Homo sapiens: one gene and its partners. The protein of the gene in region 6 interacts with the protein of the main gene of each other region in a pairwise test. Each region holds a gene or a part of one and is shown on either strand. Other genes may lie near its edges.

Evidence for each region.
Region 1: the proteins of MAGEB4 (region 6) and KRT38 interact in binary tests that used the Homo sapiens proteins (3 or more experiments, as listed by UniProt).
Region 2: the proteins of MAGEB4 (region 6) and ZNF341 interact in binary tests that used the Homo sapiens proteins (3 or more experiments, as listed by UniProt).
Region 3: the proteins of MAGEB4 (region 6) and CCDC136 interact in binary tests that used the Homo sapiens proteins (3 or more experiments, as listed by UniProt).
Region 4: the proteins of MAGEB4 (region 6) and AARD interact in binary tests that used the Homo sapiens proteins (3 or more experiments, as listed by UniProt).
Region 5: the proteins of MAGEB4 (region 6) and GOLGA6L2 interact in binary tests that used the Homo sapiens proteins (3 or more experiments, as listed by UniProt).
Region 7: the proteins of MAGEB4 (region 6) and GPATCH2 interact in binary tests that used the Homo sapiens proteins (3 or more experiments, as listed by UniProt).

What each region holds. Positions count from the first base shown.
Region 1 is NC_000017.11:41,438,184-41,442,977, forward strand, and holds the start of KRT38 (keratin, type I cuticular Ha8), read right to left. Parts: upstream 2,801-4,794; 5' UTR 2,739-2,800; coding exon 2,247-2,738; intron 2,061-2,246; coding exon 1,978-2,060; intron 1,177-1,977; coding exon 1,020-1,176; intron 676-1,019; coding exon 514-675; intron 434-513; coding exon 308-433; intron 131-307; coding exon 1-130.
Region 2 is NC_000020.11:33,748,837-33,752,853, reverse strand, and holds part of ZNF341 (zinc finger protein 341), read right to left. Parts: intron 3,932-4,017; coding exon 3,782-3,931; intron 1-3,781. UniProt on the Homo sapiens protein: Transcriptional activator of STAT3 involved in the regulation of immune homeostasis. Also able to activate STAT1 transcription.
Region 3 is NC_000007.14:128,798,287-128,802,303, reverse strand, and holds part of CCDC136 (coiled-coil domain-containing protein 136), read right to left. Parts: intron 1,119-4,017; coding exon 795-1,118; intron 1-794. UniProt on the Homo sapiens protein: May play a role in acrosome formation in spermatogenesis and in fertilization.
Region 4 is NC_000008.11:116,940,885-116,945,182, forward strand, and holds the end of AARD (alanine- and arginine-rich domain-containing protein), read left to right. Parts: intron 1-1,673; coding exon 1,674-1,817; 3' UTR 1,818-3,603; downstream 3,604-4,298.
Region 5 is NC_000015.10:23,441,295-23,444,664, reverse strand, and holds part of GOLGA6L2 (golgin subfamily A member 6-like protein 2), read left to right. Parts: intron 1-164; coding exon 165-194; intron 195-452; coding exon 453-503; intron 504-591; coding exon 592-888; intron 889-2,156; coding exon 2,157-2,215; intron 2,216-2,544; coding exon 2,545-2,686; intron 2,687-2,982; coding exon 2,983-3,370.
Region 6 is NC_000023.11:30,240,304-30,244,893, reverse strand, and holds MAGEB4 (melanoma-associated antigen B4), read right to left. Parts: upstream 2,895-4,590; 5' UTR 2,759-2,894; coding exon 1,718-2,758; 3' UTR 707-1,717; downstream 1-706.
Region 7 is NC_000001.11:217,429,019-217,432,334, reverse strand, and holds part of GPATCH2 (G patch domain-containing protein 2), read left to right. Parts: intron 1-969; coding exon 970-1,190; 3' UTR 1,191-3,316. UniProt on the Homo sapiens protein: Enhances the ATPase activity of DHX15 in vitro.

The DNA of each region.
Region 1 (4,794 bases), on a different chromosome or scaffold from region 6:
TTTGCCGCTCCAGGTCGGCCCGGATCTCAGACAGCTGCTCCTCCACGTTGCTGATGAGGCTCTGCATCTGGGCCAGCTCCGTGCCGAAGCGGTCCTCGGCTTCACACAGGGAGTTCTGCAGACAGTCCTTCTGTAGTGGGAAATAAGGGGATAAAATATACAAGGCCCCAAGGGAAACTGCTACATGCCTCAAATTTTGATGGTGATAACAGGTGGGAGAAACTTGGGTAGTGAGACCTCCAAAATAAAATGCTACTAGGCCATGGCACGGGGCATTTGCAGTGCAGTGAGAGTGAAGGACACGTACCAAGGTGTGCTGGGCTTGGCGCTCCACCTCCAGGGCATTCACCGTGCATCTCAGCTCCAGGATCTCCGACTGGCAGCACTGCAGCTCCTCGGAGCAGGACATGTCCTGCAGGCTGATGCCTTCAGACTGGAGCACAGAGAGACACGGTCACCTCCCTGCCCAGATGGAGGCCAGGTACCCCCTGGTTCTATACCCCCCCCACTCACCTGGGCTTGGAACCACTGTTCCACATCCTGGCGGTTGGTCTCCAACATGGCCTCATACTGAGCCCGCATCTCCCCCAGCACCCTGTTCAGGTCAATGGTGGGCTCAATGTCCAGCTCAATCCGGAGCTTCTCCCCCAGCTGACTCCTCAGAATCTTTACTTCCTGCAGAAGGGAGGAAGGGACAGACAGCCTGCATGAGGAAAGGGCCTTTGATGGAGCAGACAGCACCAGGACCCCGCCCCTGGCAAGCAGTAGGAGGGGAGTCCCACACACAAGCAAATGGGAAAGTCTTGCCCAGAGGGCATTCGGGAGAGCCCACCTGCACACCTTCCTCATGCCCAAGGCAAGTCTGCACTTTCCACAGAGGCCCTCTGGACCCTCAGACCCACCTCAGCCCTGCATCCTGATGCCAGCTGAGGCCAGGCAATGCTCTGAGAGCCCGGGGCTGGGGAGCTCCCCTGTCTGCCCAGTGCCCTCCCCAGGAGTTTGAGCGCCCAGGGCCACACCTGCTCGTGGTTGCTCTTGAGGGAGAGCTGCTCCTCCTTCAGGGACTCCTGCTGGGCCTCCAGGTCGGCCTTGGCCAGGGTCGCATCATCCAGGAGCTTCTGTGTCCCACACTTGTCTGCCTCCACCAGCTGGCGCAGGGAGCGCTCACTCTCCAGCCTTTCATCACAGGAGGTACAGGGTCAAAAAGAATGCCCCCAAGAGCCCCTCTCGGCTGCCCTGGCTTCCTACCTCCCACACCACCTTGGATCCTCATTTATTCACTCTGTTTAGCCCTCTGTCCTCAAAGGTGAATTAGACCCAGCCCCTCTTCTCAAAGAGCTCATGGTCTAATGGAGAAATCACAACACTACATTGCACAATATACATTTTTGCCATTGTATTCTGTGGCAACTGCAGTTCAGGAAGATCAACTGACTTGCGTAAGATCATGCATCTTGGGACCCAGTCCAACGCTCATGCCATTGCAGGGGCTGTCAGTTACCAAAGATAAGCAATAACCAGGTGCCTGATCGTGATCTGCGGCTCCTTATCCCTTGCTTTCAGCTGTCTTCCCCTCTCTCATTTTTGCCTAGGTACCTTATACCTGGTACCTTAGGGCTCCCTAATTAAATCTGGACAAAGACTCATCTGTAAGTGACTCCTCTGACTTATATATGAAACCCAATGGCTGTCTTGCTCAGTTCATCCTTCAAATCACCTCATTTTGCTCCTGGTTAATGAACTCAGGCTGCCTTATCCTCCATTTTAGGGAAATAAATGAAGGAAGACAAACATATATGCTTGGATTAATGAGGAGTTTTCCCTTCCATCTTCCATCAGCTTCGATTGTAATGAAAATTTTACTGTAGAGAATCTAGCAAGGAAGAAATGACAATGATTCCCTCACTCAACAAGTATTTGGGCATTGGGATGGAGGGTGGGGAAGGAGTCACCCTGGCCCTCCTCCGCCTGACTTACTTGATCCTAAAGTCATCGGCAGCCAGCTTGGCATTGTCAATTTGTACAATCAGCCTGGCATTCTCGGCCTTGCTGCACAGGATCTGAGGAGAACAGGAAGACAGTTCACACACAAAGCATCATGCCCTAGGCTCCTTCTCCACGTGTGGTGTCTATGATCATGTCCAAGAGAAACCAAGAACCCAAAGTTCTCTGAGCTTTACATGGATTCCTCCTGTCTTGCCTCTGCCATCTCAGACCCAGCACACCCAAGCGATCCCACACCTCACCTTCTGTTGGAGCTCCTCGATGGTGTGGAAGTAAGACTGGTAGTCGGGGCACACGGTGGACTCGTGGCACTTGCTCCTCTCGAGGAGTGTGGCCTCCAGCTCCGCATTCTCCTGCTCCAGCTGGCGCACCTTCTCCAGGTAGTTGGCCAGGCGGTCATTCAGGAACTGCATGGTCTCCTTCTCATGGCCATTCAGGGTGTTTTCACCATAGGCCCCACAGATTCCAATGTTGCCAGGAATGTGGCAGGTCCCTGGCAAGGGACAAGCAGTGTGGCAGGTAGGCGGCAGACAGAGGCTGGGGCGGCCCAGGGGAGTGGACCCCACACGGACTCGGTTGGCATGTGCCACGTTGGCCAAAAGGCACATGGGGGCAATGTTGGCCTCTGCCCCAGGCTGGCACCCAATGTCGATGGGAGAGACAGAGACATTTCTTGCTCCAGGAGCCATGGTGCAACCCAGAGGGCATGAGGAGCTGCTGTAGGAAGAGGTCATGGTGTTGGGCTGAGGCTGCACAGGAGCTTCAGATCAGCTGGGAAAGCTGAACCACTGAGACTGAAGCCTCCTCTCCTCCCAGCCCTTTTATACCCCATCCTGGGCGGGTGTTGGCTCCAATGCTTTGACCTCCTGCCTTGATTATCTACCTGTTGTGGTGCCATCATCCTGTTACTCAGCTGCTGAGTTTACCATGAAAAGTTTCTCAGCTCGTTAAAGGAATGTTGACGAATCTGAGGCCTCTTGGCTCTTTGAAATCAGGTTGGCTGTTGATGGGAGGTCAGAAGCTTTTTATTATCTTTCAAAGAAGCAAAGTTATAGCCATCAGATGCTTAGACCTTGACTGGGTTTGGCCTCTTTATGGATGTGTCCACTCTGGAGACACAAACTTTCCTGTTGGTCAGTGGTGTAGCAGGAGGACTAACCCCGGTGATGACAATGGTTCTCACTTGGGTTAAGACTCAACCAGCCTTCCCTATCCAGGGAAGAAACTGAGTCTTGGAATTGGTGGATGTTATGGCCTTGGGTTATCAAGAAGTCCTACATTTCTTCTTTCTTTAGTTGGTTGCCTTTCAGACTCACTTTGAGGAGCAACAAGACTTAGATGAATCCAGTCACTCAAAACACATCCCCTGGCTACGTCCCATATGCTACGCACCTTGCTGATGCTTGATATATAGTTGGTTAAGCACAAAATAGTTCCTGCCATTGGGGAACAACTGTAACTTGGGTAGACGTGATGTTTCAAACAAGGTATCTGAGAAGCTCATGAAAATGAGGATGACTCCAAAAACCATGGCTTATCTCGACCAAGAAGGGCAAGCTCAAGAAGCCAGAAATAAACAAAGAGAAATGAGCAATAATCTTACTGAACCTCAAATAAGAACTTGGTCATGAAAGTCAAAGGACATTGAGTGATCAGAGCCTCTGTGGGCTCTCTTCATACCTTGCTTCCTTTATTCTAAAGTCAGTCATGAGCCTTCACCCTATGAGCTAGGGGATTGAGCAATGATACCTTTTAATCTTTACTTCCAACCTGGGAGGTGGGTACTCTTAATTTTACAAAATAAATAAACAAGCCATTGAGGACAGTTTTCTAAGATCAACCTCACTATAAAGTATAAAGCCTATTCTCAACATCAGCTTCTTTCAACTCCAGAAACTGTTTCTTCACCTTGACCACCTCCAAATCCTCCACCCCAAGGATAACTACTGTGTCATTGCTAGAACTAAGAAGGATTCAAATTCCTAGAAACCGGGCAAGAAGTTGAAATTAAGATGTAAAACAAAAATCTGACATTGTGTATTTTTCCCTTTGTATCTCAGAAAATACAGATGTGGAGGTATTCATACAATAAAACAGAGTTTCTCCAAGGGCTAAATCAGAAGATGCCAGGGGAAAGTCCTGTCCCTAAAATGGTTATATTACACATTCCACATTCAGATAGTTCTTGGTACTAGGGATCCAAGACACATGGCTGCTGAGATCCCAAAACTTTTCTCCCAAAATTTGTGACAGAAGATACATAGACCCCTGAGACTAAGAAAAACCTAATGTGGAACAATCCAAAGTGATTATAACTAGAATTTTGGGAAAATGAGTTTTTGCCAGTCCCCTGAGCATTGAACAAAAGCTGAACATACACCTCTATAGGGATCAGACGTGCATATGTGAAACACAGGCTATTGGAGTTCTATCAAGAAGAAATACAGAATCTGAGAATTCAGTCCAGATTGGGCTTCTCAGGAAAGTAAGTAGTAGTGAGCGCTGACCTAAGGGTTATTCAGAGCTCACCAATCCATAACCCTTTACAGACAACATCATTGGGAGACATCACCAGGGCAGGCTGTCCCATCCTCCAGAGGCCACTGGGTGCAATCTGCATATGTTACATCTTCAAACACCCTTTTGTTACTCTCCTCCGCCTCATCACATAGCAACAAGCTTCTCTATAAATCAGAGAGCCAGGCTTTTAAAGTCATTTCCTTTGATTTGCTAAGTAGCACCCATCTTTTGGCTTTATCCTCTGCCCAGATTCATTCCATGGACTAAAAG
Region 2 (4,017 bases), on a different chromosome or scaffold from region 6:
TGGTGAAACCCTGTCTCTACTAAAAATACAAAAAATTAGCCGGGCGTGGTGGCGGGCGCCTGTAGTCCCAGCTATCGGGAGGCTGAGGCAGGAGAATGGTGTGAACCTGGGAGACGGAGCTGGCAGTGAGTGGAGATTGCACCACCACACTTTAGCCTGGGTGACAGAGCAAGACTCCATCTCAAAAAAAAAAAAAAAAAAGAAAAGAAAATAGGCAAAAATGACCTCATTCATGCAGAAAAGAGTTAATATAGCAGCCTAATGTTGCTATCTTAAGAAGGGCTTCCCTTTCCATCTTGGACCCAGCAGAATGGCTCCCAGAAAGAAGGGTGGCGAGAAGAAAAAGGGTCATTCGGCCATCAATGAGGTGGTGACCTGAGAATACACCATCAACATTCACAAGTGCATCCATGGAGTGGCTTCAAGAAGCGTGCTCCTCAGGCACTCAAAGAGATTCGGAAACTTGCCATGAAGGAGATGGGAACTCCAGATGTGTGCATTGATACCAGCCTCAACAAAGCTGTCTGAGACAAAGGAATAAAGAATGTCCCATACTGCATCCGTGTGCGGTTGTCCAGAAAATGTTATGAGGATGAAGATCCACCAAATAAGCTCTATACTTTGGTTACCTATGTACCTGTTACCACTTTCAAAAATCTACAGACAGTCAATGTGGATGAGAACTAATCGCTGATCATCAAATACCTCAAATAAAGTTATAAAATTAAAAAAAAAGGGGGGGGGGCTTGCTTGCAGCACTAGCTCGTGACTGGGATCTGAGAATCTGGTTTGTGGGACATCTCCTTTGTTGATAAGGCTTATTTTGCCCACCTGGGGCACTGTTCTATTGTACCAGATTATGTAGACTGCTTGGACAAAATATGTGATTCATGGTGAACACTTCCTTCTCTTCTGGGAGTCTGGAATTTTGGTCATGGTGGCTGGTCACCTACATGACCAATCCCTAACAGAAACCCTGGCCTTGGGCTTGGTGCAGCGGCTAACACCTGTAATCTCAACACTTTGGGAGGCTGAGGCGGGTGGAGTCCAGGAGTTTGAGACCAGCCTGGGCAACATGGCAAAACCCCATCTCTACTAAAAATACAAAAACATTAGCCAGGCATAGTGGTGCACACCTGTAGTCCCAGCTACTTGGGAGGCTGAGGTGGGAGAATCACCTGAGCCCAGGGAGGTGGAGGTTGCAGTGAGCCGAAATTGCACCACTGCACTCCAGCCAGGGCAGCTGAAGTGAGACCCTGTCTCAGAAAAACAAACAAACAAACAAACAAACAAAACCCTGGCTTTGGAGTCTGAAGTGTGTTTCCCTGGGTAGAAACACAGCACACATGTTGCTAGACTTCACTGCTGCAGGAAGAAGTGTGTTTTGTGCAACCTCTCCCCACCTCCCCAAGACAGAGAACTCTGGATTCCTCCAGATTCCACCTGATGTGTCTTTTTCCCTTGCTGATCTTGCTGTGTGTTCCTTTGCTGTAATAAACCACAGCCATGAGTACAACTACCTCTGAGTCCCGTGAGTCTTTTGAGAGAATCATGAATGTGTGGGTAGTCGTGAAACGCAGCCAGTAACTTCTAGAAATTTATGCTACAAAAAAAATCAAGCAGGTGGGCAAAGATGTCTGTTTATGGATAGTGACTCCAGCCATTTTCATAAAAGCAAAAAACAGCAATGACCTACATGTCTATACATAGAAACTTGGCTAAGCAGAAGATGGCCTATCCATATGGTGGAATCCTTTGCAGTTGTTAAAATGATGGTACTGCTGGGTGCAGTGGCTCACACCTGTAATCCCAGCACTTTGGGAGACAGAGGGAGGAGGATTGCTTGAGCCCAGGAGTTCAAGACCAGCCTGGGTAACATAGCGAGACTCTGTCTCTAAAAAAAAATTTTTTTAGGCCAGGCACGGTGGCTCACGCCTGTAATCCCAGGACTTTGGGAGGCCAAGGTGGGCAGATCACCTGAGGTCAGGAGTTCAAGACCAGCCTGGCCAACATGGCAAAACCTTGTCTCTACTAAAAGTACAAAAATTAGCCAGACATGGTGGCGGGTGCCTGTAATACCAGCTACTCAGGAGGCTGAGACAGGAGAATCGCTTGAACCCAGGATGCGGAGATTGCAGTGAGCCGAGATGGTGCCACTGCACTCCAGCCTAGGTGACAAGAGCGAGACTCCATCTCAAAAAAAAAAAAATTTTTTTTTAAAATTAGCCAAGTATGTTGGCACCATGTATGTAGTCCCAGCTCCTCAGGAGGCTGAGCAGGGAGGATTGCTTGAGCCCTGGAGTTTGAGGTTACAGTGAGCTATGATCCTACCACTGTACTCCAGCCTGAGTGACCTGAGTGAGACGCTGTCTCAAAAATAAAAACATGATGCTGATCAGCATTTCATAAAGGACACGGGGTCCTCTTCTTCACTGTGTTCGTTGGGTTCCCAAACAGGGAAAAAAAAAGTCTCGGTTGAGAAAATCAAAAGGATTTCTATATGGCAGGAAGAATCCAGGGACACAGCAAGGGGAGAAGTAAAACACCTCCACCTTAGGTTCCTTTGGCCACAGATCTTTTTTGTATTAAAAAATCCTGGCCAGGTGCAGTAGCTCACGTCTACAATCCCAGCACTTTGAGAGGCCGACACTAGAGGATCCCTTGAGCCCAGGAGTTCAAGATCAGCCTGGACAACAAAGGGAGATGGTCATCTCTACAAAAATTTTTTTTTTAAATCCCAGGGAGCTACTGTGCATTTTCTATTTTTCTAATAGACATGGGACACTTGTTAAGAATAAAAACAAGGCTGGGCGCGGTGGCGCACACCTGTGATCCCAGCACTTTGGGCCAAGGCAGGTGGATCACCTGAGGTCATGAGTTTGAGACCAGCCTGACCAACACAGTGAAACCCCATCTCTACTAAAAATACAAAAATCAGCTGGGCGTGGTGGCGCACACCTGTAATCCCAGCTACTCAGGAGGTTGAGGCAGGAGAATTGCTTGGACCTGGGAGGTGGAAGTTGCAGGGAGCCAAGATCGCACCACTGCACTTCAGCCTGGGCAACAGAGCAAGACTCTGTCTCAAAAAAAAAAAAAGAACAAAAACAAAAGTCAGGCTGGGTGCAGTGGCTCACACCTGTAATCCTGTAATCCCAGCACTTTGGGAGGCCAAGGTGGGAGGATCACCTGAGGTCAGGAGTTTGAGACCAGCCTGGCCAACATGGTGAAACCCCGTCTCCATTAAAAATACAAAAATTGGCTGGGCACAGTGGCTCACACCTGTAATCCTAGCACTTCAGGAGGCTGAGGTGGGGGGCTCACTTGAGGTCAAGAGTTCGTGATCAGCCTGATCAACATGGAGAAAACCTGTCTCTACTAAAAATACAAAAAAAAATTAGCTGGCTGTGGTGGCACATGCCTGTAATCTCAGCTACTCAGGAGGCTGAGGCAGAAGAATCACTTGAACCCAGGAGGCAGAGGTTGCAGTGAGCCAAGATCGTGCCACTGCACTCCAGCCTGGGCAACAGAGTGAGACTCCATCTCAAAAAAAAAAGTCAAAATAGCTGCACTGTATTGACAAAGCCCCACATGTTCTGGGTCCCCACCTAGACGTAGCAGCTTCCCCATCTATAGCAGAGCTGGACAAGGGAAAGCTGATAGCCTCCCTCAGCATCAGGGAGAGCTGGGGCCAGGCCCCCTTTATTCTACAAGATTCTGAATCTGCAGGAGTTAATGTACAGGTCTGGAATCAAGACCCTGTGAGAAGCCCACACCTTCTTACCTGCACAGGTGGGGGGCCCTGGGGCATGGGCTGGTCCAGGGATGTGAAGGCTGACATGGCAGACATGAGCACATCATCGCTCACCAAGATGTTCCCCTGCACCAGGGTCTGGATCAGTGGGGACGGGGGCACTGTGATGTATGTGGAGATCTGGACAGTGGGAGAGAGAGAATGAGTGAGACGGAGAGAGACAGAGTGTGTGTGTGCTCATGTGTGCGTGTGTGCATGTGTGGACA
Region 3 (4,017 bases), on a different chromosome or scaffold from region 6:
TTATACTCAGATTATAAATCTAGCCTCAGAATAAAGGCAAACTCTCTGATGTCATGAATCCTAGCAACTAGCTGGGAGACTCACTGTCTGAAAGCAGGGCTCTAGGCTTTTGGGTACCTCATGTATCACTCAGAATAACTTTTCTTCTCTAGCTGTCTTTTGTTCCGATTTGTTGCCCCCCAAAGCTTCTATTTTGAGGAGAGCTAATGGAACCTAAGAATTAGCATCCCTGCACCTGGAAGCAGGGCCAGAGGCCCCCTATAAAGCATTCCAGGCAAAGCACCATGATGCCAGGGCAGCAGGAAGAGTTTCCCAAGGTGACAGGTCCCTCTTTGCCCATCCTAGAGCTGGAAATTTTCCCAGGAAGGGTTTTCCCATAGTCAAATCAACAAAGACCCAATGACTCTCTGAAGAATTCCCAGGGTACCTCTCCATGGTGCTATTTCTTACACCACCATGGACTGGTTATGTAACATCTGGGTAGGTTTTTCCCCTTTACTGTCTTTTTAAAATTTTTATTTAAATTTTTCTTTTAGAAAGAGATAGGGTCTCACTTCATTGCCCAGGCTGCTCATGAATGCCTGGGCTCGAGTGATCCTCCCATCTTGGCCTCCCAAAGTTCTGGGATTACAGGCATGAGCCATCACGCCTGGACCCCTACAGTCTTGAATTCAACCTGGAGGTTTTTTCTAGAGATTCCCAATTCATGATCTAACACCACCTTCTACCATTTTCCTATATATTATCTCCTTTCCTCTGCTTGACTTTACTGACCCACTTGATGGCTCTCATACCTTGTAACCCAGAGTAATCTGAGAGACCTAAACTACCGGATGGTTCAGAGCTCTTCATTTCCATTTCTGCACGGAGGGAGGCGATCTCCATCTCATAATCTCCCCGAATGCGTTCCATGTCTTCAAGTTCATTCTGCATCCGGCAGAGATCCTCCTGCAGGGATGCTATGTCACTCTCATGTTCAGTTGCGGAATCCTCTGCTGCTTGCCGCAGACTCTGGATCTCAGCCTGGGCCAAATGCAATTCCTGTTCTATTTCCTTAAGTTCGCTTTCTTTCTCATGCTCTAACAGGGAAATCTCCTCCCGTAGAGAACGCAGCTCACCTGCAAAGTCCAAAGGTTGAGATGATCAAGAGGGCAGGTGAACTAACCTACCATGTTCTAGAGGCACAAAATTAAAGGGAGACTTATTTCTTGTCTGCAAAGTCCTGAAAACCTTGTCTCTACCCCATCAGAGAAGTGTAGCATCATGCCGGACGGAATAAAAGGAGTACCTAAGAAGGGAAAAGAGAGTGACTCTATGTAGTAAGGTCCAATAGAAAAGTAGATTTTGAGGCCTGGCACCAAAACAATCACTTAGTCTACTGTAAACAAAAAGTATTTCATGCTTCTAAGGAATCACCTGACAGTTAAAGACCTAACTTCATTTATAGTATTTTCTTGATGCCCTGAATCTTTCTAAAAATCCCCTGACTCAAAAAATGTATACAGACTATTTTCACCTATTCATCCTGAGAGCTCAGAAATTACAGAGCCTCAGAGTTCCCATGACCTACCTGTGGTAAGTACTGGACCTAAAACAATGTGCATTTAGAGTTCACAACTCAAATTCAAATATAAGTTCACTGCATAATAACCAAACACGGGATAATAATCTAAGTGTCAGTCGATAAGGGATTGTTTAAATTGATGATAGGCTGGGAGCAGTGGCTCACGCCTATAATCCCAGCACTTTGGGAGGCCAAGGCAGGTGGATCACTTGAGGTCAGGAGTTCAAGACCAGCCTGGCCAACATGGTGAAACCCAGTCTTCGCTAAAAAAAAAAAAAAAAGAAAGCCAGGTGTGGTGGCACGCCCCTGTAATCCCAGCTACTTGGGAGGCTGAGACAGGAGAATCATTTGAGCCCGGGAGGCAGAGGTTGCTGTGAGCCAAGATCGCACCACTGCACTCCAGCCTGGGCAACAGAGTGAGACTCGGTCTCGAAAAATAATAACAATAATAAATAAATAAACTGATGATAGTTAAATAGAATATCATGCAGCCATTTAAAAGAAAGTATCAGATCTATGGTGAAAACAAAGAAGTTTCCATATTAACTGAAGAAAAAGAGCTGTAAAATATATGCTATGATCTAATTTTTGCAAAAAATATTTTATGTATAGTATATAACACACAAATGGACAAACATATAGAAAAAGGCCTGGAAAGATCTATGCCCAAACCATAATGAGTAGTTGTTTCTGAGGTATGGGATAACATGTGGTAAGGTTTTTACTTTACATATCATATCTATCTGTGCTGTTTGGATTTTCAGAACAAGCCTATATTTTCTATTTTTTAATTTACAAAATAATGAGTTAAGAGTTCTCTGTATCTATGGAGCATCTCAGAGTTTCTAGACACATGTACCCATCTGGGATCAGAACGAAAAAGTGGAGAGAGTAAAAGGCACTGACACCAACAGTGAATTTAGGATTTGAGGGCCAGGATTAGAGAATTAATGAGGATTGGGTTGGGAGGGTCAGGATTTTCCCATAAATCCTTTGCAAGGCACATTCTCCCATCCCCTTCCCCCAACTTCTGCTCATTCTACTCACCACTCAGATGTCAACTTTTCTAGCCTGTACCTCCACTTCCTCAAAAAAAAATAAGAGAAGTCCTCTATTAAATGGTCTCATAAAACCTTGTACTTTGCTATATGTGTGTGTGTACTTAAGTCTCCCCTTCACTTGGTTATAAGCTTTATCGAGGCAGAGAGCATATCTGGTTTGCTCACCATTACAGCTCCAGGATCTAGTATTGTGCCTGAAAACGAAGCTCAATAGATATTTGATGTATTCATGCATAAGTAAGGCAGCAGTTCATCTATTCAACAAACTTTTGCTAAGTATCTCTTATGTGTACAGAACTAAACATTTGGGGTTTGGGGGGTTTTCCTTTCTGTTTTTGAGACAGTCTTGTTCTGTTGCCCAGGCTGGAGTGGAGTGGCATGATCATGGCTCACTGCAGCCTTGACTTCCTGGGCTCAAGCAATCCTCCCTCCTCAGCATCCCTAATATCTGAGACTACAGGCATGGGCTACCATGCCCTGCTTTTTTTTTTTTTTTTTTTTTTTTTAATGTAGAGATGGGGGTCTCTTTCTGTTGCCCAGGCTGGTCTCAAACTCCTGGGCTCAGGCGATCCATCTTGGCTTCCCAAAGTGCTGGGATTACAGGCATGAGCCACCACACCTGGCCCTGTTTGGATATTTTTTAAAAATTAGAATAGAATCTAGACTTTCAAAGAAGACAAATTTGGACACGCTTCATAGATAGATGCTGAGTGGTGAGGGCATCTCAGGGGAAGATCTACCCTGCTCCCCTGAGCTCACATGTGGAACTATGGGCATGTCTTTTGCCAATCTTTCCAGTTCTAGAATGATCCTAGCTGTTACGTCTCCTTGATCTATTCAACAACTATTAACTGATCCTTAACTGCGTGCCAAGGCCAAGAATCTCCTGTTAGATTCTCTGACTTCCTATTGGAAGAAAAGTCCGCTCTACCCCCACTACTGAGCAGCACAGTGAGGTCTGTCTAGCTAGGGAGACACAAGAGGAAGCTGGCCATTAGGACAAAGGCCCTAGAGTCTGGGGTGGGTGTTCTGGAGAAACAGACCAACCTCCACCTCCCTAATATGCTTTTGATGTTAGGGTTCAACTCTCTCTTAGGTGCTTCTGGCCCTAAAAAAATGGTATTGTCGGCCAAACACGGTGGCTCACACCTTTAATCCCAGCACTTTGGGAGGCTGAGGCTGGTGGATCACTTGAGATCAGGGGTTGGAGACCAGCCTGGCCAAAATGGCGAAACCCCATCTCTACTAAATATACAAAAATTAGCCGGGTGTGGTGGCTGGCATTTGTAGTCCCAGCTACTCGCGAAGCTGAGGCAGAAGAATTGCTTCAACCCAGGAGGAGGAGGTTGCAGTGGGCCAAGATCTCGCCACTGCACTCCAGCCTGGGTGACA
Region 4 (4,298 bases), on a different chromosome or scaffold from region 6:
TGATGAAAGAAAAGTTAAAGAACCATTGATGTTTGAATTTCCTAAGTAAGTGTGAATTATACATACTTATTTTACTTAGATGGTAAATCATTACCAATAATTTTTCTCCTTGATTCTTGCATGAAAGTACAGGACGGATATTCATCAGTTAATTAATTAATTAATTAATTCACTCACTCTTATAACAAACACACAGAGAACCTACTAGGTTGTGTGCCCAGGCAGTGCACTCTTAGTTGGGGATACAATTATGAATAATATACAGCCTCTACCCTCAAAATCATCAGTCTCGTCTGGTCAGCGTGTTATGAGGCACTTGTACAGAGTGCTGTGGATGCACAGATGAGAGGCAATTATGTCTGCCCATGCAATCAGGGAGGGCTTCTCAGAAGAGCTGGCATTTGACTGGGTTCAGCAGAGAGAGGTGGCAAAGGGCATCTTAAACAGAAATGGGGACAGAAAGAGGTGAGCTTCAGCTCAGCATTTATTTAGGGACTGGCAAGGTTTCTGACCAGCTGCAATGGGAGCTGGCATGGGAAAGAGGGCCAGGAAAGGAAGCTCAAAGTAGGGCAGGATTATAGAGCATCTGGGCCACCCTAGAGAGCTGAAGCTTCCTGCAGGCAAGGTGCAAGGGTTTTTTGTTGTGGTGGTTGTGTGGTTACTGTTAGTGCTTGTTTGCTGGATATTCATTTACTTTATTCTTTGCTAATTCTTGCTGTCAGAAAAATGATTCTAGGTGCTTCAGAATGGAGAGGAATGTCTCAGAGAAAAACTGAAAGATAATTTTATCCAGTAGCTTTATTTTGCAAATCAGATGACCATGAATATTTGCTTTTTACCAACACACTGTCCTGGTTCATCCTGGGGTGGTTTCTATTGACAAGCTGATGAAGCTTTTTTAGCAGAGAGAACAAATTCCTCGTGAACTGCATTAAACAAGCCCTAGCTGAAGAAATTTGCAAGTAGTTGATCATTAGTTTTCAGTTATAATACAAAGATTATGTTGGACTAAGCTTTCTTGGACTGCCCCCGGGTAACATGCCCTAGAGATCTTTTTTTAAACGCACGAGGACCTTCATAAACTCCCATTGAAGGATGGTATAAATCAGCCTTGATATGAAACAGATTTCACTCCAGAGTGAAAAATGTTAGATTATATAAGTACACATAACTATACATGTGTCTCTAAGGTGTCATTAAATGTTTTTGCTCAGCAGGTAGACCATTTAAAATCCTGAAAACTTGAAATGATAAGTAATCAAGTAAATAGCACAGATTCTGAATACTCAGGTGGCTGTAGGCAGTTATCCTGTGGCTCAGAAGGCGCATAAAGATAAATGATTTCATTGTGGATCACATGCTATTCCTTGAAAACAGCCTTCGGTGCATAGGTATTTTTCATATGGACAGCTTTGTGCATCAGCTACTTTTGTTTTCATTTCAAGCCATTTCAAAAACTATTTATATATCTGGATTTTACCTTGTCATATAGAAAGTCAGTTTTATAGCCAGACCAAACAGTTAAAACTGGAGAATAAGATGAGAAATACATCTTCCTTGATATCTTATTTTCTTTTCCTACAAACTTCTTATTTCTTCTGTGTAGTCAGAGAGTGGTTTCATTTGATCTGCATCTCAGGCTAATAAAATTTTTATTTTTTTCTAACTTTTAGGTGGAAATGCATTTCCAAAACCACCAGCTGGCTAGAACTTTACTGGACCTAAACATGAAAGTGCAGCAATTGAAAAAGGAGTATGAACTGGAAATTACATCAGACTCCCAAAGCCCAAAAGATGATGCTGCGAATCCGGAATAAAGAAATGCACACGCAAGGGCTGGGCGCGGTGGCTCACGCCTGTAATCCCAGCACTTTGGGAGGCCGAGGCGGGCGGATCAAGACGTCAGGAGATTGAGACCATCCTGGCTAACACTGTGAAACCCTGCCTCTACTAAAAATACAAAAAATTAGCCAGACGTGGTGGCAGGCACCTGTAGTCCCTGCTACTCAGGAGTCTGAGGCAGGAGAATGGCGTGAACCCAGGAGACAGAGCTTGCAGTGAGCCGAAATCCTGCCACTGCACTCCAGCCTGGGTGACAGAGCAAGACTCCATCTCAAAAAAAAAAAAAAAAAAAAAAGCACACGCGAAGCTCTGGATCCTAAAACTAACGCATACAACCCTGAAACAATTCTGATGAACACATTATGCTTTGCATAAGTTTTGAGGGGCAATTTATAGACCCAAAACAAATGACAGGGGAAGGTGACAGAAAAACATCTAAGAGAGGGGAGAGAAAAATGATGTATTACCAAGTTTTAAAGTTATTTATTTGTTATTTTTACTGGGACATAGAAGTAAAATATAACTATAGATAAATCTCTCTCTGTCTCTCTCACTCAAAGAATGCTTTAATGCCAACTTTCGGTATTCAACCTTGTGTCACCTGACCTTTCTGGCATTGCCTGAGCTTTCAGAGTTTGTGCTTGTTTTGTTTTACTTGATTATTCTCAGTTTGTCTGTCCAGCAGCCTGCCCTGCTTCTTGTGGAGAATTGTTTCTACTTGGATTCTAACCATGCCCTTTAGGTGGTCTGTGACTAAGGGTATTCCATCTTCCTGGATATAGTCATGCAGCTCAAGGCAGGCAGATGGGTTTGTCCTTAGGATTTTTGAATGGGCACTAAAAGAGTAGATGACTATTTCTGCCAGTAGAAGCTGTGGATCAGGGGCTTGGAAGCTGCTGGTGGTCACCATGTGAGAAAGCCCACACCCTAATGGAGGTGACTGAAACGGAACCACTAAAAGCACAAAAGGGGAGGGAGGGAGGGAGGGTGCTTCGCTTCCTTGTTCCTGGGGTCAAGCTGTATAAGACTCCAGGCCTTGCTCTTGTTTATGTACATGAAATATTCTGATATCCTTCTCATAAAATCTCTTTTTGCCTAAGTAAATTCAAGCTGGAGTTTCATGACTTGTATCTAGTGTTCATAACTAATACAGTTGTTCAGTTTTAGGAGTTAAAATGGTTCTTACTGTTGAATTGGACTATCTAACTGTACCCGAAAAGTGCTGTCTTTTTAATGCAAACAGTAAAGTTAATAAAAAATAGTTGCAGATCTAAGTGATATTTATAATGGTTATTGTCTGCAAAATACAAATTAATTTATAACAAGCTATGTAATTTTAATATTTAATAAACTATAAAAATCAGTTCTTGAAGACAAAGGAGAACAGAAGAGACACAGTCTTTCTCTTGTTAAAAGAAATACAAGGACAAGCATGGTGGATCACGCTTGTAATTCCAGCACTTTGGGAGGCTGAGGTGGGCAGATTGTTTGAGCTCAGGAGTTTGAGACCAGCCTGGTCAACATGGCAAAACCCCATCTCTACTAAAAATACAAAAATTAGCCAGGCGTGGTGGTGCTCGCCTATAGTACCAGCTACTCAGGAGGCTGAGGCATAAGAATCACTTGAACCTGGGAGATGGAGGTTGCAGTGAGCCGAGATCATGCCCCTGCACTCCAGCCTGGGTGACAGAGGGGGACTTGGCCTCGAAAAAATAAATAAATAATAAAAATAAAATAAATGCAAGTTGTTTTATGTGTGTGAGGATCTGAGAATTATCTGGACTAAGTTTAGTTTGTCCTTAACTTTTTTGTCCACAATAAGTAAATTATTCTAGCCCTTTGGTACTTAATTTCCCTCTGTATAAATGAGGAATTACCAAATTCAGCATTGGCAGATGAGCAGTTGCCAGCATCTCAATATCTGACCATTGTGTTCCTTCACACATTTTACGTATGAGCTCTTGGCCTATAAATATACGACTACTATATTAAATTTCATTTGTAAACTAGATTTCCTGTTTATTTCTTCCTTTGAATTTTATAGAAATTTTTAGGAAAGGGTTGGCATAGTTCCTTGTGATCTGTTTTTTGAAAAAGCTTCCACTTAACCTTTGGGACAATCATTCTCAAGTGCATTTTAAAGATTAACATTTATAAATTGTTGTAATTTTGTGTTTAAAAAATACTCGAGGTGATTCATTGTATGAGCTCAATTCCTTACAGAATACAGACTGCTGATGTTGGTTAATACTAATGTCATTTGATTATACTGATAATATATTGGGGATCAAAAGAAAGAAAATTTAAAAGAGAAAGTATGAAAATTGATGCATTGATTTTCACATTTTTAGATTTAAAAAGGTCCATTATTGTATTGCAAAGTTTTGATCACCACTTTTTCCCCACATCTTTTAGTGATGAACTTTGGATCACTGTATTTTTTAGAGGCGACAGAT
Region 5 (3,370 bases), on a different chromosome or scaffold from region 6:
AAATCTCTTCTTTGGGAGTTGAGAGTTTACCACTTCATGTTCCCATTGGGTCTGAGAACGTTGCCCTTTAAAATCCATTCCTGACCCCTGCGTACCGCTTCCTGGCCTGGGGAATAGAGTCCAGGGGGCCACCCTCAGTCACCTTCCTTTGACTCTCCCCACAGACACAACAGAACCGAGCGCAGCTGAAAGAAGTAACGTGATTTGTTTGCTCACGACATGACTGCTGGGTTTGGAGGGCACTCAGATGTAGAGGCCCGTCTCATCTCGCCTACTCCCAGCTTGGGGAAGAAGGCTCACCGCCAAGATTCCACCCCATCCCCACAGGGTCCCTGATAACCTGGTCCCATGGGTGCGCCTGTCCTGGGGCATTGGTGCCATTCTGGGGGCATGTCTCTTGCTGTGGATCTCTGCCTCCCCCTAGTAAGAGCTCTGTCTTCCTCTTTCTATAGGAAAAGAAGGCAAGCCACCAACATCAGGAAGCCCTAAGGCGGGAGATAGAGGTGAGTGGAGGGTGTGAAGTTCCCTCCTGTCCTCTGGAGAAGGTTTTTTTGCTTCTCTTTCAGCACTTGCTTGTCTTTTCTCCCAAAGGCCCAGGATCATACAATACGAATTCTCACGTGTCAGAAAACTGAACTGGAGACAGCGCTCTATTACAGCCAGGATGCTGCCAGGAAATTTGAAGATGGGAACCTGGGCACCCCATCATCCTTCAACCTGGCACTTTCACAGGCCTTTAGGGGGAGTCCTTTGGGCTGTGTCTCAACCTCTCTCATTCCAGGAGAGTCCAAGGATCTCGCCGGCCGCTTGCATCATTCCTGGCACTTTGCAGGAGAGTTACAGCGGGCTCTCTCTGCTGTGTCCACATGGCACAAGAAGGCAGACAGGGTAAGTCCAATCACCTCCCCAGTCTCCTGGGATCCCAGCTTCGCAGATGGAGGAATGAGCCTAAAGGTCCCTCCTGCAGGATGCAGTGTCCTGCCCAGAAGATAGTATGGGTCATTTCTTGCTGCTTTTGTGTGTGGTTATTAGAGGCAGGTTGGGGCTGAGTCAGCTGCTGTGGGTGAGTTGGGGGGCACTGTGGGGAGCGAGCACTGGACACAGAGCTCCAAGGCCAAGAGCCTGCCCTGCCCATACTTGGCTGTGGCCTTGACCAAGTCCTAGGCAGGGGTTAAGGTATTTGTACCATGAAGGTACAGAAGAGTATCTTTAGTATGTTACCATTTGTGTAGAGAGAGGGAACACACATAAGTGTGCATGTGCGTGTGTGTGTGTGTGTGTGTGTGTACGTATTATGGTAACATACATAAAAACATATTTGTAAGGATTCATAAAAAACTCAGGAGACAGGAACAGTGTGTGTGGGGTAGATATTTCCCTTCTCTACCTTCTGAGTTTTGGACTATGCCAATGTATCGTTCTTTCAAAAAGTCAACAAAGGATTAATTTCCTCCTTCTTATCTGTGCCCCTACCCCCAGGGAAAGAATGGGCTTAGAGAATCAGATACACCTGGGTGTTGAAATCCCAGCTCTGTCAAAGTGATCTTAGGCAACCATTTAACTTTTAATACCCCATGTTTTGCATCTATACAATAGAGGTAATAATGGTAACCGTCTCCTATGGAGGTTGTGAGGATTAAATGGGATTGTTAGCATAGTGCCTGGTGAAGCACTCAAGAAAGGTTCCAACAGTGGCAGTAATAACAGTAATAGCAATAGCAATATTATCTGATCTCTCTGGGCCCCTGTTAGCCAGCTATCAATTCAGTCTCTTTCCCTGTCCCTTCTACCCTTACTGAGTTCTCTGAAAAACAAGTGAGAGCCAGGTGTGGTAGCGCATGCCTGTAATCCCAGCTACTTAGGAGGCTGAGGCAGAATTGCTTGAACCCGGGAGGCAGAGGTTGTCATGGGGCGAGATTGCGCCATTGCACTCCAGCCTGGGCAACAAGAGCAAAACTCCATCTCTAAAAGAAGAAAAGGAGAAAAAAAAAAAGAAAAAAAAATGAGACCATGGGCTTGGAATTGCCTTGAGAACATGTCGGGTGTGATGGAGAGTGAGGGAGTGTTACTGTGGAGTATCAGTGTAGCTGTTGTTCCTGGTCGGCCAGCTGCTCTTCTGCCTGCTCTGTCCTGACTTAACCTTTCTCTATTTGCAGTACATCGAGGAGTTAACAAAGGAGAGGGACGCCCTGAGTCTGGAACTGTACAGGAACACGTAGGATGGGGGAAGGTGGGATGGGAGGTCTGGGGGCCCTTAGCGTGGGTGGTGTGCTGGGAGGTGGGGGGTACAGGTGAGCATGGTAGGGGGTCATACAGGTTTACATGTGTGCACAGGGAAGCTCTAGTGCCGGCTGTGCCACTGACTCATGGGGTAGCCTCAGGCAACTCATGTCTTCTCTCTGGCCTGCCACCTGGGACTTTTAATTCCTGGGGTCCCTTCCAGTGCCACGGTTCTGTGCTTGTGGGGCGAGAGTAGAGGGTTGATCACCAAAGCAGTCCTTTCTGTTCTTCGTTCATTCCTTTCTCTACTGCCTCGGGCCATAGCATAACCAATGAGGAGCTGAAGAAGAAAAATGCCGAACTACAAGAAAAACTTCGACTTGCAGAATCTGAAAAGTCTGAGATCCAGCTCAACGTGAAGGAGCTAAAAAGGAAACTGGAGAGGGCCAAGTTCCTGCTGCCACAGGTGAGCGGCTGCAGCCCCAGGGGTTGTGGGAGACCCATCCAGCTAGGACCATGGTCTAGGGATCATGCAAGGTATGGGGAGGGTCCAGCCAAGAGCTGGAAAATTTGGGTCCTTGTTCTGGTCCCACCATAGAATCCTCTAGAGTGTGCTAAAAATCTACAAATTTGGGGCCCTGCCTGGGAAATCAGAACCTCAGTGTTAAGGCTTAAAAATTTTTTTTAAAGAATCATAGATGAAAACTGTTATTTTATAGATTACATTTATATAGCTAGTTCATAAGTCTATTTCCTTTTGAGGTTCAAACCAACACTTTGCAGGAGGAGATGTGGAGGCAGGAGGAGGAGCTACGGGAGCAGGAAAAGAAGATACGGAAGCAGGAGGAGAAGATGTGGAGACAGGAGGAGAGACTGCGGGAGCAGGAGGGGAAGATGCGGGAGCAGGAGGAGAAGATGCGGAGACAGGAGAAGAGGCTGCGAGAGCAGGAGAAGGAGCTGCGGGAGCAGGAGAAGGAGCTGCGGGAGCAGAAGAAGCTGCGGGAGCAGGAGGAGCAGATGCAGGAGCAGGAGGAGAAGATGTGGGAGCAGGAGGAGAAGATGCGGGAGCAGGAAGAGAAGATGTGGAGACAGGAGGAGAGGCTGTGGGAGCAGGAGAAGCAGATGCGGGAGCAGGAGCAGAAGATGCGGG
Region 6 (4,590 bases):
AAACACCCTGGGGACTACGCTCATAAAACACCTAGTTTGTGTACTGGATTCACTTCACTTGCACTGGGACAAGAGCACCGGCCACTTTCAATCCCTGCTCCAGGCAAAGATCCCCTCTGGTTTTTCCACAATCCCAAAGTAACTGTTAAAGGCAATTTTTCATTCCAGTCTCCATCTCTCAAGTGTGAGATCCACCATCTGAGTGTGTGACCCCTGCTCAGTGCGCCCCATATAGGCACTATGCCAGGACATAAAATTACCTCCTATTGCAGTATGTTCAGTTTCCCGAAGTCTCAGTTACCTTGCTTAGGACATTTACACTAGATTCCACTGCTGGTAATACCCCCACCTTCTTTTTTATCCCCTTTTCACCTGTCTTTAGGTCTTAAGGAGTATCTCATTACCTTCGTTATATGATAGCTGCTGTTGGATTCTAAAATTCTGTGGGCAGGGATTGGGGTTTTTTTGTTGTTTGTTTGTTTTTTGTTTTCTTAGCTTATCCGGTACTAGCCAGGAGCCCTCCAAAGTACAGCTGCTCAATTAATATTTGGACAATTGAAGTGTAAGTGACCAGGAAGTCAAATGTATTGCTATTTAATTTCCCCCACATTCCTGAAAAAGCTAAGCAGATCCGGGTACATATACTTCAGTTTTACAAAGAAAGACTAAAAAGAATAAAACAAAGCAAGAATTGACCACATTTTACTTTTTTTTTCTCTACTTCCTGGTCCCACCAACTTTATTGCAAGGTAATTTCCTTTTCACAAATTCCATATTCCAATGCCATATTATCTTGTTCTAGATCACAGAAAAAGACTTAAAAGATTTTTAAATTGTTTTACATAATGCAAAAATTCTCACTCTCCAACCTGATATATTTTAATAAATGAGTGATTCATGCCATTCATAAACTTAGATTCTGAAACTAAATAAATCTACAATTTAAAAAAAGAACACTGAAAAACAGGAAAAAGAAAAGATAAATCATTTTACATACAAATATGTTATACATGGTGTTCCCACCAACTCCCCTTTGGCTCTCCATTAATTAGAAGGTTAAGTGTTTTCTTAATCAAAAGTAAAGAATATACCTCAGACTTCACAAGGAGTGGGAGACACTGCTGGACACCACACTGAAACATGCCAGGCCCAGTTGCAACACTGTCTCTGGCTCTCTCTCCCTCATCTCTTAAAGTCTTCTCTTAATGGAGGGAAGACAATGGAGACACTGTCATTGACCTTGGCCCAGGCCTCCACATTCTTGAATAATCTAAGCAAACCAGGTATGTAACTTTTAAATTTATGAGCAAAAAAAGACTGAACTGAGTAAGACAAACCACGAATAAAGCAACTTTTACTTTTCTTCCCTTTCTATCTTCAGATTCTACCTATTTTACTGTGGAGTTATTTTAAATTTCTAAGGATAACCTTACTCCCATGCCGTGTTATTTTGCTCTGTATCACAAAAATTATTTCAGGATTTTCTATTTGTATTTCAAAAACAAAATTATTATCACTAAACCAACCTGATAAACAGCAATAAATGTGTGATGCATGCCATTTCTAAATTTATATTCTGAATCTAAATAAACTTTCTATTTTAAGAAACATCATGGAAAATACAACAAAGAGATAAATCAATGAGTTATTCATGCATCACAGGAACAGAGAAAGCAGCAGGTCTTTCAACCACAAAGTGAACAATTTGCCTTAGATCTCACATGGGTTGGGAAGAGCTACTGGATGTGGCCCTGGAATACGCACTAGTCATGGCTGTAGTGCCACGCCTGGCTGCAACTCTGGGCCGGGCTCCAGCTCTCTCTTCTTCATCTCTCAAAGCCTCTTCATAAAGCAGTGGGAAGTTATTGGGGGTGGTGTCATTCACCTTGGCCAAAAACTCCAGGACTTTCATCTTGCTGGTTTCTGCATGAGCTCTTGGACCCCACAGGAATTGATAGCGTGGGGGATCACTGTTGGGCACCTGCTGGTATTCCAGATATTTTTCCTGTACCAGATCTTGGGTGATGAGCTTTCGGGGTTCCCCAAAGATAAGGTGCCTCTTTCCATCATAGATCCCCAGCATATTCAGGAATTCCCAGATTTCCTCTTCACGGGCACAGTTGCCATTTAAGAAGATCACACTCAGTAGAGGCATCAGAAGCCCATTCCTTGGAAGGGTCCAGGCACTGCTCTGGTTTCCATCGTTGGGGCCTAGCATGCTGACGAGGATGTAGGAGTGAGTGGTGGGGTTGACCTCCTTCAAGGCAAGGCCAAAGACCAGCTCCGTGCGCTGAGAGACTTTCCTGAAGATCTCAGGGAAGTGCTCCTTGTACTTTTTGCTGATGATCTTCAGCATTTCTGCCTTTGTAGTGGGCTCTTTCATTTTATACTTGTACAGCAGGAACTGCACTAACATCTTCGTCTTCCTGGTTAGAGAATCTTTGAGTGATCTCTCAGTGGATGTTGAGGCCTGGGAGGAACTTGCATTTTCCTCATCTTGGCTCTCGTCGCCTTTATCAGATCCAGTGCATGACATAGCTGCAGCAGCAGAGGTGGTGGGTGGCTCTCTCTGAGGCTCCTGGGGAATGCCAAAAGCAAGGGAGCTGGAGGCAGTATCCCTCAAAACAGATGAGGAAGAGGAAGGAGACTCTTCTTTCTCTGCTGCAGTAGGCTGACCAACCTTGAGATCCTGGGTCTGACCACGGGTCCGCTGGCGTTTCTCACGGGCACGGAGCTTACTCTTCTGACCCCGAGGCATGATGGCTGTGGTTAGGCACAGCAGGCAGGAGTGTAGGCAGAAGGGCAGGTGATGTGGTTCCTGGAGAAGAGCAAATGAAATCCTGAGAACACCTTCAGCAGGCAGATACTACCTTGGCTTTTCAGAAGCCGCCTCTGCAGGATTCCTTGAGAACACTGCTCTAAGTATTCACTGGGCTATTGTTCTTAGTCATTCTGTCCCCTGAGAAGCCAGCTGAGGAAGTTACAATGTGCCTTAGGCTGCAGCTTGCCAACCCTGCCTGGGGCTGACTGGGTGACAACAAGGCTCGCAGTGGGGCTTTCTGTGTTCTGGCTTGGAGAGGATCCACTCTGATTACCTTTAGAATTGTCATGTCAGCTCTTGGCAGGGCCTGAGCCTCCCTCTATTGGTGTTGTGAAATTGACTCTTTAGTTTTCTGGGACCCAGATGAGGGAAGTCTAGGGGCCCCTCAACCCACCACCCCTGCCTAGAAGCATTTAGTGCTCTCTCTGTCCTGGGCTCTTTAGGTCCCAAGTTTGCACTCAGGATCCTCATCTGGACTCCAAGCAGGGTTGTGGACTGTCTCTTCTGCTGACTGATAACTGCAACTTCAGACCAAGAATTTCATCTTTTCTAGTTCTGGTATAAAATGTGATGGGCATCTATGAAAGAAAATAATTGATAATCTGGACTTCGCTAAATTAAAACTTCTGCTCTGCTAAAGATACCACAAAGAGAATAAGATAACTCCCAGGTTGGGAAAAAATTATTTTCAAAAGACATATCTGATAAGGGACTGTTAACCAAAACATACAAAAATGTCTTAAAACTGAACAATAAGAACTGACCAACCCTATTAAAAATGGACAAAAGATCTAAACAGGCACCTCAACAAATAATATATATGGAAGGCAAATACGTACATGAAATGATGGTCAACATCACATATCATTAGAGACTTGCAAATTAAAACAATAATGTGATACCACTACATACCTATAAGAATGGTCAAAATCAAAAACCCTGATAACCCCAAATACTGATGAGGATGTGGAGCAACAGGAGCACACTGTCATTGCTGATGGACATGAAAAATGATACAGCCACTTTTGAAGACAGTTTGTAAGTTTCTTACAAAGCTATGCATACTTTCATCATATGATCTAGCAAGTGCGCTCCTTGTTATTTAGCCAGATGAGTTGAAAACGGTATGTCCACAAAAAAAACCTGCACACAAATGTTTATAGTAGCTTTATTCATAATTGCCCAAACTGGGAAGCAAGCAATATGTCCTTCAGAAGGAGAGTGGATAAATTAACAGAATAAAATATTATTCAGCACTAAAAGGGAATGAACTATCAAGCCACAAAGAGACATGGATGAAACTTAGATACATATTACAAAGTGAAAGAAGCCAATTTGAAAAGTCTATACATTGCATAATTCCATCTATATGACATTCTGGAAAAGGCAAAAGTATGGAAACAGTACAAAGTTCAGTGGTTTCCAAAGGTTGGGGAGAGTGAGAGATAAATAGATCAGGCACAGAGAACTTTTAAGGCAGTAAAACAATTCTGGATGATTCTATGGTGGTAAACATATGTCATTATACATTTTTAAATATTAAAACCACAGAATGTGCAGCAACAGGAATGAATCCTAAACTACGGACATTGGGTGATAATGATGTGTCCATGTATTCTCAATTGTAACAAATGTATCACCCTGGCTTGGGAGGTTGATATGAAGGAGGCTGTGTCTGTGGGAGGACAGGATGCCTGTGAGACTCTCCTTTCTGCTCAGTTTTGCTGTGAACGTAAAACTATTCTAAAAAAGAAGGTCAATTATTAAAA
Region 7 (3,316 bases), on a different chromosome or scaffold from region 6:
AAAATTCAAAGTCTATTTTTGAAAATGTCATCAAAGAGAAAATGCTTAAAATAGATGCATTTCTCAATTACCTGCTAAGAAAATATGGTAAACAACATCTATATCTAAATTTCATGTTAAGCACTAACCAATCTCCTTTTTCAAATAAGGAATCAAGGGAGGGAAGGAGGGAAGGAGGGAGGGAAGGGAAGGAAGAAATATATCTATCTCTGGAGGCCTATGAAGGGAATTGTGGTCTATGTACCTGCAAATGTATATAATATATTTTTTAAGTTTTATAATATATATCTCTTTAATATTATTTTCCTCTATTTTCTTTCTACTAACTTATATAATCATTTAAACATGGCCATGGAAGGAAAAGGAGGAAAGGAACTAAAGGAGGCATATGTTACAGACTGAATAATAAATAACAAGGAGAGAGATTATAAGAATGTAAATTCCTAGGAATTCAAGATGCCACCAGTTGTGCTTTTTGTTTGGTTTGGTTTTAGTTTTGGTTCTGTTGAATGTCAAGGTCATGGGCAAATGTGAGATATTACAATATAGGTTGGTGATTTTCTGAATAATCCATAAGGCTAACATGGTAATGAAAATAAATCCATTAGTAGAGTACTTTATGGTTTACTGAGAAGTTTCTTTACATACATGATCTCATCTGTCCTACAAAGTTCTGTGAGATAGGCAATGTAGGTTGTATTATGGCTGTTTCACAGATGAGGAAACAAAAGCCCAGAGAGGCTGAATAGCTCACCCTGCTGTGAAGTGCTAGAATTGAAATTCTAAACAAGATCTTTCTTCCATTGTTCTCTCAACTACAAAAAGTATCCAAAGATGAATACGCAACCCCCTCTAGTACCTGGTTGAAAAACAAAACAAAACAAAACTTAGGAGAACATCGTTTTCATAGCCTAATATCTTCACCTGTGTTCATACTGATTAATGTGTGCTGTTGTTTTATCATTTCAGGATTTGTAGGTGAAAATGCCCAGCCAATCCTAGAAAATAATATTGGAAACCGAATGCTTCAGAATATGGGCTGGACGCCTGGGTCAGGCCTTGGACGAGATGGCAAGGGGATCTCTGAGCCAATTCAAGCCATGCAGAGGCCAAAGGGATTAGGACTTGGATTTCCTCTACCAAAAAGTACTTCCGCAACTACTACCCCCAATGCAGGAAAATCCGCCTAAGAAAAGCAAAGAAGAAATGTTTTACAGACTTTATTCACTATGTCCCATTGTTCTAAAATGATAACATGACTTCTGTTTTTGAAGCAAAAATCTACATTGCCTCAAACACATCACTCTAGCTTCCTTACTGCATACAGTCCTGCCATAGTGAGAGAAATGGGATTTCATCACAATTCATGGTGCTAAAATGAAAACCTCTGCACTTTAATTTTTTTCAGTAATTTCCAGCTATTTCTAGGTATAAAGAGCAGCTCGTTTCTCTTATTTATTTTAGTCTCATGTGTCAATACTTTCCGATGCTTTGCTTAATTCATGTATGTGTGCAGTGCTGCAATGCCCAGACAAACGTGAGCACACCCACCAGTTTCTAAAATGGAATAGACAGGAAAAGATTGTGTTTTATATCATCCCTATCTATTGTAACCCAAAAGACCTACCATCGCATCAGTGAAGTCCGAACACATCTTTGTTTGAAAGGCTTGTCAATTTCATATTCCTTGAATTGGCTTCTTGGTGAGGATTTTCTGACAGAGTGATACCCATCAATTTTCTATCCTTAGACAATGTAGTGTGAAGTTCACAGTTGACAAACAACAATTAATGTTTCCCTTGGATGTTTTGACAAAAATAAACCTCATCGTTGTTATCACCAGAGTGCCCTCTACCTTACTTTAATGCAGATTTTATAAATTTTACCTCATTTAGAACATAAAATAATTATTGAAAGAAAAATGTATTTTTTAAATTCACCGTGATTGAACTGTAAATTCTATTAATCCAGATGTACTTCTACCTCTGTTTTCCCAAAGATTGATATTATTTTTAAGATCAACTCAAGTGTAGTAAACGGATTTAAAATTTTAATCATTGGAGTAATTTATTACAATATTGAATCAATTTACATGAAAAGTTAAATGGCTCTCCCAGAACTCAGATTTCTGGCAATGACCCAACCCATTTAGAAGGTGAACAAAAGAAGTAAATGGTACTGATTTGCCCTTTCTAGGACCCAAGATGTTACTTTAAAACCTAGCAAAAGAGGTCGTTTGTATTACGTGCCTAGTATTGAGCTGTTTCTGAGTCATTTGCTTCATAGTATCAGAAATTCTAAATTGCTTTTAGTTTAGAAGATCTTTATTTATTATCTTCATTATTAACAACTTATTATGATGATGATTATTATCATTCTATTTATAATGGCCTTTGCTGGTTGAGTAAAGACTGAGATAACACATGTGAATCACCTTTCTAATGGGTTTTTAAAATCTTGTCACTTTCCAAAAGAGTTTTTTTGTTTCTTTTTTTTTTTTTTTTTTTTTGACAGAGTCTGCCTCTGTCGCCCAGGCTGGAGTGCAGTGGCGCACTCTCGGCTCACTGCAGCCTCCCCCTCCTGGGTTCAAGTGATTGTTCTGCCTCAGCCTCCCAAATAGCAGGGATTACAGGCACCCACGACCATACCCGGATAATTTTTGTATTTTTAGTATAGACGGAGTTTCACCATGTTGGCCAGGCTGGTCTCGAACTCCTGACCTCAAGTGATCCGCCCACCTTGGCCTCCCAAAGAGCTGGGATTACAGGCATGAACCACAGCGCCCAGCCCCCAGAAGAGTTTTTAAAAGGTGTTAAAGGAGGTTTATGCACGTAACAGACCTTTCTCAGGTGGTCCCCTAAAAAAAATCCTGCCAACTAGGGAGGGGAAGTCCAACCTGCTATTTGAAAGCCTTCACGGTTTGCCAAATGTACATTTCTTGAGAATTATCTTCTTTCCCAGGGATATTGTACCTAGAGGACAGGTTGGTTAGGGAACTATGGACGACCAGAAGAGATGTTCTTTTGAAGCATTCTTACTGGATAAAGTAACCCCATGGTATCATTACTTTCTACAAGTTTTTTACTTACAAATTTGCCATTTTTTTAACTGATATTTTCTAAATGCTCATTCTGTCTATGTAGCCGGGGGGAGATTATATACAAGTTTTAAAACTTCTTTGTGATAGTGTATTGTGCTCTGGGGTCTATTCAAAATTTGGTGTTTGAGGTTTTGTTAATTTGATTGCCTGGAGATCTGCTAAAATCCTAGAATCTCAAAAAGCCAAGTTTGAAGCCACTGAGAGCAAACAATGAGG